4 linked regions of the Homo sapiens genome follow. The protein of the gene in region 1 purifies or fractionates together with the protein of each later gene. This does not show direct contact. Each region holds a gene or a part of one and is shown on either strand. Other genes may lie near its edges.

Region 1 (3,941 bases):
GTGCTACCTGAAGGGGGATTAGAAATGGCTAAGGGAAGTGGCTGAGCATCACTGTCAGCTCTCTGTTGAATAAAATAGACCCAGAAGGTCCCCAGGTTCCCTTGTCTCTGGCTGAGATAGGAAAACCAGTGAGGGACCTGCCAAGAGTACACCCCTAGTGCAGAAGGCAGTAAGGGAGGGTGTGAACAGCCTTAACTTGGGGACCAGATGGAAGATCTGGCTGAGATGAAGGGTCGAGTCAGTGGGGACCCCAAAAGGGCTGAGAGATTTCATCAGTCATGAAATCCAGTAGTAAGTGCTAGCAGGACGCTACTAACCACATCCAACGAGGGTCGTGATCCCAGAAGTCAGTAAGGGTCCAGCACAGGACCTGACCCCACCTCCTTATGTTCCTATCCCAGGACCCTTGCACTTGCTGTTTTCCCCAGCTTGAATTTCCTTCCCTCCATAGCCACATGCTCACACCGGTTGTTCCCTCAGGTCACAGTGAGACATTCCATGAACAACCCCTTAAAAATGGCAAAGACCGGGCATGGTGGCTCAAGCCTGTAATCCCAGCACTTTGGGAGGCTGAGGCAAGCAGATTGCTTGAGGTCAGGGATTCAAGACCAGCCTGGGCAACATGGCCAAACCGTATCCTACTAAAAATACAAAAATTTGCCAGGCGTGGTTGCAGGCGCCTGTAATCCCAGTTACTTAGGAGGCTGAGGCATGAAAACTGCTTGAATCCGGGAGGTGGAGGTTGCAGTGAGCTAAGATCGTGCCTCTACACTCCAGCACTCCAGCCTGGGTGACAGAGCAAGACCCTGTCTCCAAAAAAAAAAAAAAAAAAAAAGCAAATGACCTTCCCCTTCCCCTGGTGTTCACTATTTCCTTTCCTGCCTATTCTGCTCACTGTACTCATTATCTGACATACCATATGTTTCATTTATTTTTCAAATTCTTTGGGTCCTCCAGTAGAAGGTAAGCTCCAAGAGGACAGAGATTTTGCTTATCTTGTTTTGTTCCCAGTTCTACCTCTAGCACCCATCACAGTGCTTGGAACAAGAAATCCATTCAACTGTATTTACTGAATGAAGCAATTAATTATTTGATGACATATCAAGTTACTTTTCCCTGTAACCAGATACTATCCCAGGAAAGAGAAAGGGTGATGGAAGAAAGAGACATGCTGAAAGACTCAACACTTATTCAAAAGAGATTGAATTAGCTTAGAAATCATTTTAAAACAGAAAAGACAAATATTGAACTGCTGAGTTCAGGCCCAGCCCCTATGTGCCTTGTCACCCTGGGTTGTAAGTGCTATTTAACTGTCTCCCCTAGTTTGCTCCCCTGGTGCCATGTCATTTATCTCTGTAGTCCTGCTCCTCCCACCACTAACTCCCACAGTCAGGATGGAAGTTCCTGGGAAAGTTTGGTGAGTTAGAGAAAATAGAGAAGCCATATTTCTTTTGCAGACCAAAATTTCAGTGTGTTCAATGTTGTTCCCTCAACCTGATATTATTACACACTTGATGTTATTGCAGTTTGAGAAATGAGGAAATTGATACTCTGAGCAGCTGAGCTTCTTGTTGGGGCTCACAGAGTCAGAAAATGATGGGGCAGGTTTTAACCCGGGGTCTGGGCTTTCCTCCCTACTCCAGGTGAGTGGTGTTTTAGGGCCTCAGGAAGACACAAGGACGGAGGTCAGCTTGTTTAGGAAATTCACACGTTTCTGACTCTGTAGAAAGGTTAGCCGACAGCCTTAGGGTGGGTGGAAACTTCTGCCAGATGAGCAGGAAGGGATAGGTGGCTCATGCTGGAATTGGTGGGTGGTAGGTCTGACCAGGGTCTTTCTCTGTTTAAACCTTCCCATGGGTCCCTCACCTGGCATTTGAGGCCCACTGAGACCTGGAGCTTGAATGCTTCCTCAGCTTTACCCCCGCCTCTCTCCTAACCCACCCCTCCATGTTATGCAGGTCCCCGACACTCCCATGCTCTCTCCCGCATCCAACCTTTGCATAGGCTGACCTCTCTGCCTGGGACACCCTTCTGCTTTCCCCTCTCCTTCCTTTTCTATTTTCGACTCACTTTTTAGGACTCAGGATATCCCTCCAGGAGGACTCTCCTTTCCCTCAGCCTGGGCTGGACCATGTGTACCCAGCCCCCTGGTTTCCCACTGCCACAGCCGTGTCACCCTGGGTTATAAATGCTATTTAACTGTCTCCTCCAGTTAGTTCCCCTGGCACCATGTCATTTATCTCCGTGGTCCTAGCTTCCAGCGCAGAGTCTGGCACAGAGACAGCTAAGTACAAATGAGCTTTCTCTCCCATTAAGGTAGCTGTGATCTTCACAAAGCTTCGTTCATTCTGGGGACTATTTTGCAAAAGGGCCATACCTGCCTCTCCTCTTTCCTGCTTCTCTTGCTCACCCCTCCCACTCCTCCTCACACACTAGGCCACCCCCACATGCTCCCTGGAGCTGGGCAGGAAGAGGAGGGATGGAGCCGCTGAGAGAGCAGCTCTGGATGTTGTAGTTGTCATCTATCAGCTGGCACCTGCTGCTGGTGAGGCGCCTCCTGCCTCCTATACGTGGTGCTAGATGACAACCTGCAGCCCATCCTTCTAGCCCTTGGGATTCTCTGACCAGGCCTTAGTCTCTAAGCCCTGCCCCTTCCTTAAGGAGGTTCAGGTTACCTGGAGTCAGCTGGGATAAGAGCAGCAGCACAGTCAAAGTCAGCAAAAGGAGCTTCATGGCTAAGGCAGCCCAAAATGAAGCTGCAAGTCCGATGCCACGGCTGAGCTAATGGGAGAAGGAGAGTGCCTGGCCTGTGGCTCGCACTCCCTCAGCTGCCCACGGGTACAGCCCTCACACTCTGACTGGACACCCCTCCCTTTGTCATTTAGGTCAGCAGGGAGAGGACAGCCAACAAGGTCCAGGGCCCAAGACTTAATATACTACCCGTTCCTTCCACCCAGCTCCAAACTGCCTGAACCCAGTGACCAGCAGGAGGCGCCACAAACACCGGCTCCGGAAGGTCAGGGAAGACGGCAGAGTTTTGAAGAATAAATACAAAGCAACAGGTAGATGAGCTGAAATGGGGTTCCAGGTGGAGGAATGTCTGTACAAAGGCTCATGTTGGTGTTGAAAATGAGAAATATGACATAACCAGAGCAAAAACTGAGAGGAAAACGGCAGAAAGAGATGAAGCTCCGAGCACCAGCCTGTCTGTCACAGCCCCCTGCTGGGTTCTAACATGCGGTGGCCCTCCCCCTAGGGTCATCCTTCCGCTTCCTCAGAGATCTGAGAACCAACCACTCAGAATCCTTCTTCTGAACTCGGGTTTTGAAAACTCATTCTTGGCCGGGCACGGTGGCTCACGCCTGTAATCCCAGCAGTTTGGGAGGCCAAGGTGGGTGGATCACTTGAGGTCAGGAGTTCGAGACCAGCCTGGCCAACATGGTGAAACCCCATCTCTACTACAAATACAAAAAGTAGCCAGGTGTGGTGGTGCATGCCTATAATCCCAGCTACTTGGGAGGCTGAGGCAAGATAATCGCTTGAACCTGGGGAGGCTGTGGTGAGCCGAGATCGCGCCACTGCACTCCCGACTGGGCGACAGAGCAAGACTCTGTCTCAGAAAAGAAAAGAAAAGGCATCTCTTTCCTTTAGTTCCCTCAGCCCTCGGGTGGTAGCTGCATCCTGTAGTTACTGTTTCTCTGACTGGACCCTGCTTGAAACAGATGTCAAGGGTATAATAGCATACAGAGGGATTACAAGGGAAAAACAACAACAACAACAACAACAGTGAAAGCCATTTCTGTAGGGGCAGAAAACAGTCAATGGGGTTGAAAACTGAAAGGTAAGTGAAACAGTGAGGTCAGCAAGTGTAAATAATTCTTTCTAAAACCCTTACAATGAAGAGAAGAAGAGACACTGGCTAGGAAGGGACTCAGTGGAAA
Region 2 (3,500 bases), on another chromosome or scaffold:
AAGATGAGTAAGGACTGCTAACTGAACAATACAGTATCAAGGGATTTAGTTTGGATTTGGATGATGACATAATCCTAAATCAGCAGGTGTACAATAAATACATATTAAATGAATTAATTAATGGAAAGGAAGGGGCAGAACAACTGTGAGATGCCACCCAAAGGGAGACGTGAGGTTAGATTTTGGAAGTAAGGGAAGAAAGAATCAGAAAATGGCCCCAAGGTTTTTAAACTGGTAACCAACAAAAAATGACTAGATAATCTAGAGGGGGGAATGAGTTTTGGGAATAAGATAATAACTTTGGTTTACAGAATTGTGGTCACAGAATTAAAGAGCTACAAATAAATGCCTTGAAGAGTTCTTTCTACACCCTCATTTTTATAGATGGGAAAAATTCAGATGCTTTAATTGACTTAGCAGTGATACAGACCTAACTATAAGATAGCTGACACTAGCACCCAAGTCTTTTGCTTTCTTGTCTAATATAATAATAGTACCATCTCAAAAATATGAGATTAACTGTGAGAGAAAATCCTGGTGAAAACACTCTTACAAAATGGATTGGAAATTTACTTGCTTAGAGGTAGTCATTTATTTTTCTCTATTACTATAATATACCTCTCATTTTGTAATAAGAGGCAGTGATAAAATAGGAACAAATATGTAATAATTTTATTTCATAACTTATTTTGTTGGAAAACTACTGAGCAAAGCTTATAATTATAAAGTGCTAATATTCACGGAATTATAAAGGGAACTTTGAAGAAGTCCTAAAAAGAGTTTTGCTAGAATAAATTGTTCAAAGTATAAAAATGTTACCTAAAGTATCTCAGTTTTTAAAATAATCAGTGTTTATTGAGTGCCTAATTAAGGGGGGAAAACAACCTTTAATGAAGTTTTAGAACATTTGTACATGTATAAAATAAGGCTAATTAATATTTGGTTAAGGCAATAAACATAAAGAGACACATTCTTGTTGAAGGCTGGCTCACTATTCAAAATGAAAGATAAGGCTGGGTGTGGTGGCTCACGCCTGTAAGCACTTTGGGAGGCTGAGATCGGCAGATCAGCTGAGGTCAGGAGTTTGAGACCAGCCTGGGCAACATGGCAAAACCCTGTCTCTACTAAAAATACAAAAAAATTAGCTGGGCGTGGTGGCGCATGCCTGTAATCCCAGCTATGTGGGAGGCTGAGGCAGGAGAATCACTTGAACCCAGGAGGCAGAGGTTGCAGTGAGCTGAGATTGCGCCACTGCACTCCACCCTGGGTGACAGAGCAAGACTCCATCCCCCCCAAAAAAGAAAGATAATACTCAACATTTATTTGAATATTTCCGTAAAATAAGATCATTTAAATGATTTATTCAACATTTTGACTTGATTAATCTATACCTGTAGGCCGTAAGACACCACTATTGTCTTAACTGTAATATTGGGCCAAATCTACCATATAAGGTGATTGTGAATCAGGCTGAAACTCCCAACCCAGTCAGGTTGTGCCAACAGGTGACATATTTAACCTGCACAATATTTTAAAAACTTTTGTATTTGAATTCTTTTAGTGTGCCTTTACTCTCTAGTTGCTCAGGGGCATCACCATACCCTGTTGTCATTATACCTGCTTCTTTTAATCAGCTGAGGTACCAGCCTAGCGTTTGAAGACATTTTGAGTTTGAAGGCCATCTTCTATATAGTGTCTTGCTCCTGGTCATTGTATGTCCAAATATATGTCTGACTCAGTCAAGTGTAAGCAAAAAATATTTCTTAGAATGGTTCAAGTTCTATGTGTGTCAAACCCTACATTCATATACTGTAAGCAGTTCCTTTTCCTTGTGTAGTATAAGGTAAAAAATATATATAATTTTAAAAATCTGACGTAATATGCACACGTGATCATATTACATAAAATAGTAAGATTTTTTTCCACAGGTAACCTTTGATGTAGCTTGGTCTCCAAAGAACATAGACAGAAGATGCTATAATTATACTGGAATCGCAGATGCTTGTGACTTCCTCTTTGTGATGTCTTATGATGAACAAAGTCAGATCTGGTCAGAATGTATTGCAGCAGCCAATGCTCCCTATAATCAGACATTAACTGGTAAGACTCTAAACATGGTCATTTATTAATAATATTAATAATATTCTATAAATTAAAATATTAAGATGTTTTTAGTATTTCTAAGTTATATGTATACGTTTTTCAATTGTAAGGCTTGCTTCAAACATGTAAAAATCACTTAATTGAAAGCTTTAAAGTTTACAAAAAGTTTTAAAGTTTTGATTTTCACTTAATTCTTCCAACAATCTTGTGGTATAGGTATATTTCTAGATGAGATAAAAAGAATTAACTGCTCATGATTGCATAACTATTAAGTATTATATAGTTGGGGCTTAATCAGGTATTCTCATTTCTGGTCTGATATTCTTGTCATGAAATCACATGCTTATCTAGAATTTGACAGGATATTTTTGTTGAAATAACCAGTGTTAAATAATAGCAAAGATAGATATGGTTGGGCACCTTCATTGCATGATTAATAGGATAGGCATTAACTTCTTTTAGTATCTGTGATAAATTAAAAATTATATTCCTATTAGAATTTGAGTACTTTTGACCTGTCATTCATTTGATGTAGGCTTTGCATTATCCTCTTCAAAGTTTGGATTGGTTTGTATTCCATCAGTCAACTAAATAAAAGATTGCTTGTTCTTTTGTTTTTTTTTTTAATTTTTATTTTTTTGAGCAGGGTCTCACTCCATCACCCAGGCTGGAGTGCAGTGGCACGATCAGGGCTCACTGCAGCCTCAACCTCACAAGCTCAGCCTTAGCCTCCTGAGTAGCTGGGACTACGGGTGCATGCCACCATGCCCAGCTAATATTTTCATTTTTTTCTTTTTCTGAGACAGAGTCTTGCTTTGTTGCCCAGGCTGGAGTGCAGTGGCACTATGATAGCCCACTGTAACCTCGACCTCCTGGGCTTAAGTGATCCCCCAACCTCAGCCCCCTGAGTAGCTGGGTATACAGGCATGCACCACCATGCCCAGCTAATTTAAAAAAGATTTTTTTTTTAAGGAGATGGAGTCATACTATGTTGCCCAGGCTGGCCGCAAGTGATCCTCCCACCTCAGCCTCCCAGAGAGCTTCAATTACAGGCATGAGCCATTGTGCCTAGCCACATACCTATTTAAAGTTGAAAAATAACTTATTCTGTTAAAATTACGAAGTAATTATTAATTGAGGGTTCCCAAACTGTGTTTCAGGCAAGACATTATAATTATGTTCTATCAATAAAAGGTTCAAGCCTTGGGAGGCTGAGGTGGGAAGATCACATGAGGCCGAAGTTCAAGCCAGCCTGAGCAACATAGGGATACTTTGTATCATAAATAAATCAACAACCAAACTAAATAAACCAATATGTTTGGGAACTGATACATACCCCACCCCATTTTTGGTTATTTAATAGTACATAATAACATTAAAGGCTCTAAAAAGTAATA
Region 3 (3,500 bases), on another chromosome or scaffold:
ACAAAATTAAATTCTCCATCTCTTTTTAAAAGATATTTTATGGATACTGACTAACATTAACCATGACCTAAAAAAACTGTATTTTTCCCAGTTCCTTCAAATTCAAATAAAGATAACATTCAGTTCTTCAAGTCAGAGAAGACTAGAAGTAAAAACAAAACAAAACAAGACTTTTTTTTTGTAAATCTGTTTAGTTACTATATAGAAAAATAAATAATATTTGGCTTAGAATTATTTAAATTACTAATATATTTAATAACTTTATATTAGAAATTTTTAATATGGGTTATTTTAGGAAAAAAAGTTAAAATATAATCAAATTTCTCTATGTTCTGCCTAAAGAGAAAGGAATTATCTTGATCATGTAATTATTATAGTTGAAGAAATAACAGCTTATCAAAGTTAGAATTTTAAAAATTACAAATTTTAAAAGTCTACAGAGAAACTAAAGATTGCTGACATTTTCAGCTTAAAACAATTACTCACATCTCTGACTCCAACACAATTTTCAGTTTTTTCTGTAATGATTATAACAGTATATACAATTTCTTAATGATTATAACAGTATATACAATTTCTTAATGAAATAGGACTACTCCTGAAATAAATAAATTACCTGGAACAGTTTCCACAGTCTAATACACCACTGAATGATTTACTGTCGTTATCGAAGAAATACTGGGTTTGTTCAGTAATGCAGCTCTGCTTGGACAGGGAGGCCGTGAAGTCATCATCCTCCATCTCAACTTGGGTGGCGGGGGACGGTGTAAAAACAAAGAACACCATTAGGAGGGGTCTCTGTAGTCACTCCCCTCGAGTCTTCACTTCTCACAGAGCAAAATAAACGTATAAGACCAGGACCCCTCGACTGGCTTGTTTACTGCTGTGTAATATCGTGGCAGCCCGTAATAGATGCCTGATAAATATCAAGAGAATAAATGAATTCAAATACAAGATGGCTATGAGATCAGGCCCGTGTGACCTAGGTAATTTCTAAAACATTAGGAAAGGTTGGACAAAAAGTTTCTAGCTCTAAAATTATGAGATGGGTGACCTGTTTTCTCTTTCACACAAATATTCTCTGAATTTGTTGAACTTCAAGCACATCCCAAAAGAAAATTTTTATTGTTATGGCAATGACAAGGTCTGAGCATTTACATACCTGCCTCAAGGAGTCGTGGAAAGGTCAAACTCAAGAGAAACTGCTGTAGAATAGACCTGAATTTTTCAAATAAAAAAAAAATAAACATCTAGGGAAAAAATGTGTTTTTACATGTACCCATACACATAAATACTGTTTCCCTTTATCTTTTTGGGAAAGAAAGTCTTGGAGTGTTTTTATTTAAGTATTTTCAAAATTATATAACACATTGTAACCTTTTTGTAATGTGTAAAAGAAGTCATGAAATCAGAAGTGTTCAGATCTTGTTCAGGATCAAGTGGGACACAATGTGTGAAGAAACCTAACAGGCAATGTTATCAAGCAGAAGAGTTCACTCTAAGAGGGAGAATGTCTGTTTCAGCGCGTAGGTTTTCACATTCATTACGTCTCCTTATTTTAGTTTTTAAAACCATTTGTTTTTTGGGTTTCCCCCGCCCCCAACAAAGAAACAATGCTGTTTATACCATGGGTTTGAATTTGTTAACTATTTACTTTGTAATATAGAATATATTTGTAAATATGTAATGTAACTTTCATGAAACAAAATATACATATTAGAGAGATACAGCACATTTCAGTTTTACAGTAACTGACAACTGAGCCAAATTTCTAGAACTGAATTTAGTTTAAAAAAAAGTGGGGGTGGGAGGGGATATAGGATAAAGCCAAGTATTTCAGGGTCATGATGAAATTTTAAAAGCCTACTGAAATTAATATATAAAATCACATCAGAAAATACCATTTTTCAGAATAAAACAGAATTTTCTAAATCTTTTAAAAACTCTCAAAATTTTAAAATCTTTTTTGCTGCTTTAATGATATAGTCACTTAATTTTAGCTGGGCAAACCTCAACATCAAATGAATATTGTACATTAATCTACATGGAATAGGGCTAACAATACAGTGTGATGATACAAAAAAAAAGATTAGAAGGGAGAGAGGGAAGAGGGAGATCATGGATTCCAGACGTAACAGGAGGTTTAGTTACAACTAAACAATGAGAAATGTGATCTTCCAGACCTTCCACAGTGCCACAATTGACCATTTAAATGTCTTATTTTCATAGGTTGTAGGGTCTACAGGTGAGGGTTGAGGGAGGTTTGGAAGGTAGCATCAGTGAAAAGAAATAATTAGATCCATGTCGGCAACCTGATGCCCCTAAAACAATACTAGTCCTTGTATCAATAGTAAAGAGGTAGAAGGTTGCCATCATGCCATGAATTTGATGCATGTAGACATCCAACTGGGATATTAAAGACAAATTGTAACTTCTTACAGATCAATACACCTAAAAGAAATTAGTGTAATGTTTTTATAAATATTTAATACAAATGAAAAGAGTTTCAATAGATATGTAGAGGAAGGAAGACTCTAAAGAGGCTGAAGTTTACATCCGCATAACATTGTTTTCATATGAGAAACTGAATAATGGTAACTTTATAGTGTTCACTTAGGAAAAACTATAAATATTACCAATAGGTGATGTAAAGAATGAAAACAACTTAACTCCCTTAATAAAAATTTGAATATCCCCTAAATCCATATTTTCATCAGATGCTTTTTTATTTTACAACTTCTTTCTTTCATTACCAATAAAACTAAAATTTTGACTTACCAGGCAGCAGCAGTGGCCCACCAGCCAATTTGTAATATGTCTGCTACTGATGGCTATAAAATAAAATAATAAGGTCATTTCAGTAGTCTACTTGATACTGAGGACACTTGAGTACCCCTTGAGAATTGATTAGACCGTGGATATTACTGACCACATATGCTGAGCGATGTCCTGCTCCTTGTTTTGGTGCAGCACCGGGCTCACATACTGACTGATAATCATAAGATTTGTTAAAAGCATAAACTGATATATTAACCAGGTGTCTCATCAAGCTGGGATCAATCTCTCCAAAAAATCTTCCAATCTGGTGAAGAAAAAAATCATAAAGCAACGTGCACTTAAAATGTAAGCCAAAAATGAACACGGGAATCACCACTACAGTGAAAAGAAATAATACAAAGAAACTGAACTACAACTGAGGAGCTTAAAAACAAAAGCAAATGAGAAACGTGTATATGACACTGTGAACAAACTAAAATGAGAGTAAGTGTTCTCATTACTCAGTGGGGCTGTGTGATATTTTATTTGTGGAAAGAATGGACACACATTACTAAGCATTAAATCACAATCAAATGCTTCCCAGATGAATAAAACAGGGCCGGGGAATGGAGAGGTATAAGTGGAAGGGTACAAAGAAGCAGTTATGTAGAATGCATAAGCCTAGAGATTCAACATACAACAGAGGACTGTAGTTAATAATACTGTGTTGTCTACCAGAAATT
Region 4 (3,500 bases), on another chromosome or scaffold:
TGCAGCAAAATAATACAACAGATAAATCTCACAAATGTTTTCTATTCTTATACTCAAGAGTTCTCAAACCCGAACATGGATATATGCTCTACATAATACTTATTTAATGTATCAAGGATATGAAAAGTTAAGGGAACATCTGTTATAAATGAAAGTCATAACTTTAAAGAAATAAAACTTAGCCAGGCATGGTGGCTCATGCCTGCAATCCCAGCGCTTTGGGAGGCCAAGAAGGGCGGATCACGAGGTCAGGAGATCAAGACCATCCTGGCTAACATGGTGAAATCCCGTCTCTACTAAAAGTACATAAAAATTAGCTGGACGTGGTGGCAGTCGCCTGTAGTTCCAGCTCCCAGCTGAAGCAGGAGAATGGCGTGAACCCGCAAGGCGGAGCTTGTAGTGAGCTGAGATCGCGCCACTGCACTCCAGCCTGGTTAAGAAAGCGAGACTCCATCTCAAAAAAAAAAGAAAAAACAAACAAACAAACAAACAAACAAAAAACTTAAGAAAGTCTAATTTAAAGCATCAGAAAAAAAATCAACTGTAGTATGTAACTGATGCTTTATTCATACAATAATCTTTTCCTCTTGGCTTTGTCTCAGGCAAAAATAATGCATGTTATTAATTCTTTAACTAGAATCATGCTTACCTGTAAAACACCTCCTTCTAAAGTTTGCCACTTGAGAAAATTTCCTCTTATATCATAGGAAGCAGCAACAAACTTCAGTTTTGTATTCTGATTAAAGAAAACGAGCAAAATCAGGTCAAATACTCTGAAAGTAATACAATATCCTATAAAGAAATTTTCATTGTTGACTGATCTTTTTTGTTGAAAAATTACATTCAATTATCTTTATTTTGAGGTTCAATTAATCTATTTCTATGACTAAATAGACCTGAAAGAATTAGACTGGTTTTTTGCATGAAAATTATTATTCTAGAATTGAGAGGCAGCACTAGTGACAGATAGCCTCCTTTTGAACCTGTTAAATAGGAGGCAGTGTGGGAGAATAGTATCTCCTCATTCTGGAAGGTCAAAAAGTTACAGGTAGGAATTTGGCCCTGTGAAGTGCTGAGCAATGTCACAGAGCCCCAATCAATCTTTGGAAGCACTTCTTTAAGGTGTGGAAAAAACAGGACAGAGATTTTTTGCATTTGGTGATGAAAACTGCTCTTCCCAACCCTACAAGTACAACTTCTTGCCATAACCACACAATCCAGAAGTATCCACATATTCAGTAAGATAGCTAAACTCTATACTATTTAGTTCTTATGAGTTGTTGACATTTATATTTAGTTTAGTAACTGAGTTTGTACCAACAACCTAAAAAGGCAAGAATTGTAACTTTATTACCTTTTAAAATTATAAATCAAAATGTAGTTATCCTCTAATGATATTAGACACTTTTACCTGGTTTTCTCCTTTAAAACTGAAATTTGTAGGAAGAGAGGTAGAACTGAGCACTTGAGGTGCTAATCCTAACTGGTCTCCATAAAACAGCCAAGGAAGATTCTGTCTCCTATAAACAGTTACAACTGTTTTAATAATGGAGAATAAATATTTCTTATTATTAGTATTTGTGAATATATTAATAACTGCACTGAATTCAGTCAAAATAACATTTCATCAATCAAAATATCCTTACCAAAATGAAATAGAATGAACAGTGCTCAGTCCAGCAGTATTTTCAAAGATAAACTGAAATAGTCCACATGCATCAAATGTGGCAAAGTCGTAAGAATTCATGTTCATCACACACATATTTCCAAGAGCTTGACAAGATGTTAGATTGGCATATACCTACAACAGAACAATGGCAAAGAAAAGTAACATGAACCTGAACAGTCTATGCAAAAGTTGATATAAAAATTTTACTTTGTGCAGGTCTGTTCCAAGATGGCCGAGTAGGAACAGCTCCGGTCTGCAGCTCCCAGCATAATCAACGCAGAAGGCAGGTGATTTCTGCATTTCCAACTGAGATACCTGGTTCATCTCATTGGGACTGGTTGGACAGTGGGTGCAGCCCATGGAGGGCAAGCTGAAGCAGGGTGGGGCATCACCTCACCCAGGAAGCGCAAGGGGTTGGGGGATTTCCCTTTCCTAGCCAAGGGAAGCCGTGACAGACTGTACCTGGAAAAATGGGACACCTCCACCTAAACACTGCGCTTTTCCAATGGTCTTAGCAAACGGCACACCAGATTACATCCCACGCCTGGCTCGGTGGGTCCCACGCCTACAGAGCCTTGCTCACTGCTAGCACAGCTGAGATCAACCTGCCAGGCAGCAGGCTGGCAGGGGGAGGGGTGTCTGCCATTGCTGAGGCTTGAGTAGGAAAACAAAGCAGCCGGGGAAGCTCCAACTGGGTGGAGCCCACCGCAGTTCAGCAAGGCCTGCTGCCTCTGTTGACTCCACCTCTGGCAGCAGGGCATAGCTGAACAAAAGGCACCAGAAACTTCTGCAGAGTTAAACATCCCTGTCTGACAGCTCTGAAGAGAGCAGTGGTTCTCCCAGCACAGCGTTTGAGCTCAGAGAATGGATAGACTGCCTCCTCAAGTGGATCCCTGACCCTGTGTAGCCTAACTGGGAGACACCTCCCAGTAGGGGCCGACAGACACCTCATACAGGTGGGCGCCCCTCTGGGACGAAGCTTCCAGAGGAAGGATCAGGCAGCAATATTTGCTGTTCTACAACCTCCGCTGGTAATATCCAGGAAAACAGCGTCTGGAGTGGACCTCTAGCAAACTCCAACAGACCTGCAGCTGAGGGACCTGTTAGAAGGAAAACTAACAAATAGAAAGGAATAGCATCAACATCAACAAAAAGGACATCCACATCAAAACCCCATCCACATCAAAACCCCATCTGTAGGTCACCAACATCAAAGACCAAAGGTAGGTAAAACCATAAAGATGGGGAGAAACCAGAGCAGAAAAGCTGAAAATTCTAAAAACCAGAGTGCCTCCTCTCTTCCAAAGGAATGCAGCTCCTCACCAGCAACAGAACAAAGCTGGATGGAGAATGACTTTGACAAACTGACAGAAGTACGCTTCAGAAGGTCGGTAATAACAAACTTCTCTGAGCTAAAGGAGGATGTTCGAACCCGTCGGAAGGAAGCTAAAAACCTTGAAAAAAGATTAGACAAATGGCTAACTAGAATAAACAGTGTAGAGAAGACCTTAAATGACCTGATGGAGCTAAAAGACATGGCACAAGAACTATGTGATGCATGCACAAGCTTCAGTAGCCGATTTGGTCAAGTGGAAGAAAGGGTATCAGTAATTGAAGATCAAATTAATGAAATAAAGCGAGACGACAAGGTTAGAGAAAAAAGACTAAAAAGAAATGAGCAAAGCCTCCAAGAAATATGGGACTATGTGAAAAGACCAAATCTATGTTTGATTGGTGTACCTGAAAGTGATGGGGAAAATGGAACCAAGTTGGAAGACACTCTTCAGGATATTATCCAGGAGAACTTCCCCAACCTAGCAAGGCAGGCCAA

The links. The genes of interacting proteins can lie anywhere in the genome.
Region 2: the proteins of DEFB123 (region 1) and CTBS purify together in Homo sapiens (affinity purification with mass spectrometry; one large-scale study listed by BioGRID and IntAct). This does not show direct contact.
Region 3: the proteins of DEFB123 (region 1) and CACNA2D1 purify together in Homo sapiens (affinity purification with mass spectrometry; one large-scale study listed by BioGRID and IntAct). This does not show direct contact.
Region 4: the proteins of DEFB123 (region 1) and TMEM67 purify together in Homo sapiens (affinity purification with mass spectrometry; one large-scale study listed by BioGRID and IntAct). This does not show direct contact.

What each region holds. Positions count from the first base shown.
Region 1 is NC_000020.11:31,439,491-31,443,431, reverse strand, and holds the start of DEFB123 (beta-defensin 123 precursor), read right to left. Parts: upstream 2,801-3,941; 5' UTR 2,734-2,800; coding exon 2,676-2,733; intron 1-2,675. UniProt on the Homo sapiens protein: Has antibacterial activity.
Region 2 is NC_000001.11:84,564,441-84,567,940, reverse strand, and holds part of CTBS (di-N-acetylchitobiase precursor), read left to right. Parts: intron 1-561; exon of another isoform or gene 562-1,928; coding exon 1,929-2,100; intron 2,101-3,500. UniProt on the Homo sapiens protein: Involved in the degradation of asparagine-linked glycoproteins. Hydrolyze of N-acetyl-beta-D-glucosamine (1-4)N-acetylglucosamine chitobiose core from the reducing end of the bond, it requires prior cleavage by glycosylasparaginase.
Region 3 is NC_000007.14:81,961,278-81,964,777, forward strand, and holds part of CACNA2D1 (voltage-dependent calcium channel subunit alpha-2/delta-1 isoform 1 preproprotein), read right to left. Parts: intron 3,083-3,500; coding exon 2,930-3,082; intron 2,832-2,929; coding exon 2,779-2,831; intron 1,219-2,778; coding exon 1,163-1,218; intron 747-1,162; coding exon 617-746; intron 1-616. UniProt on the Homo sapiens protein: The alpha-2/delta subunit of voltage-dependent calcium channels regulates calcium current density and activation/inactivation kinetics of the calcium channel. Plays an important role in excitation-contraction coupling.
Region 4 is NC_000008.11:93,778,894-93,782,393, reverse strand, and holds part of TMEM67 (meckelin isoform 1 precursor), read right to left. Parts: intron 1,802-3,500; coding exon 1,647-1,801; intron 1,521-1,646; coding exon 1,412-1,520; intron 737-1,411; coding exon 650-736; intron 1-649. UniProt on the Homo sapiens protein: Required for ciliary structure and function. Part of the tectonic-like complex which is required for tissue-specific ciliogenesis and may regulate ciliary membrane composition.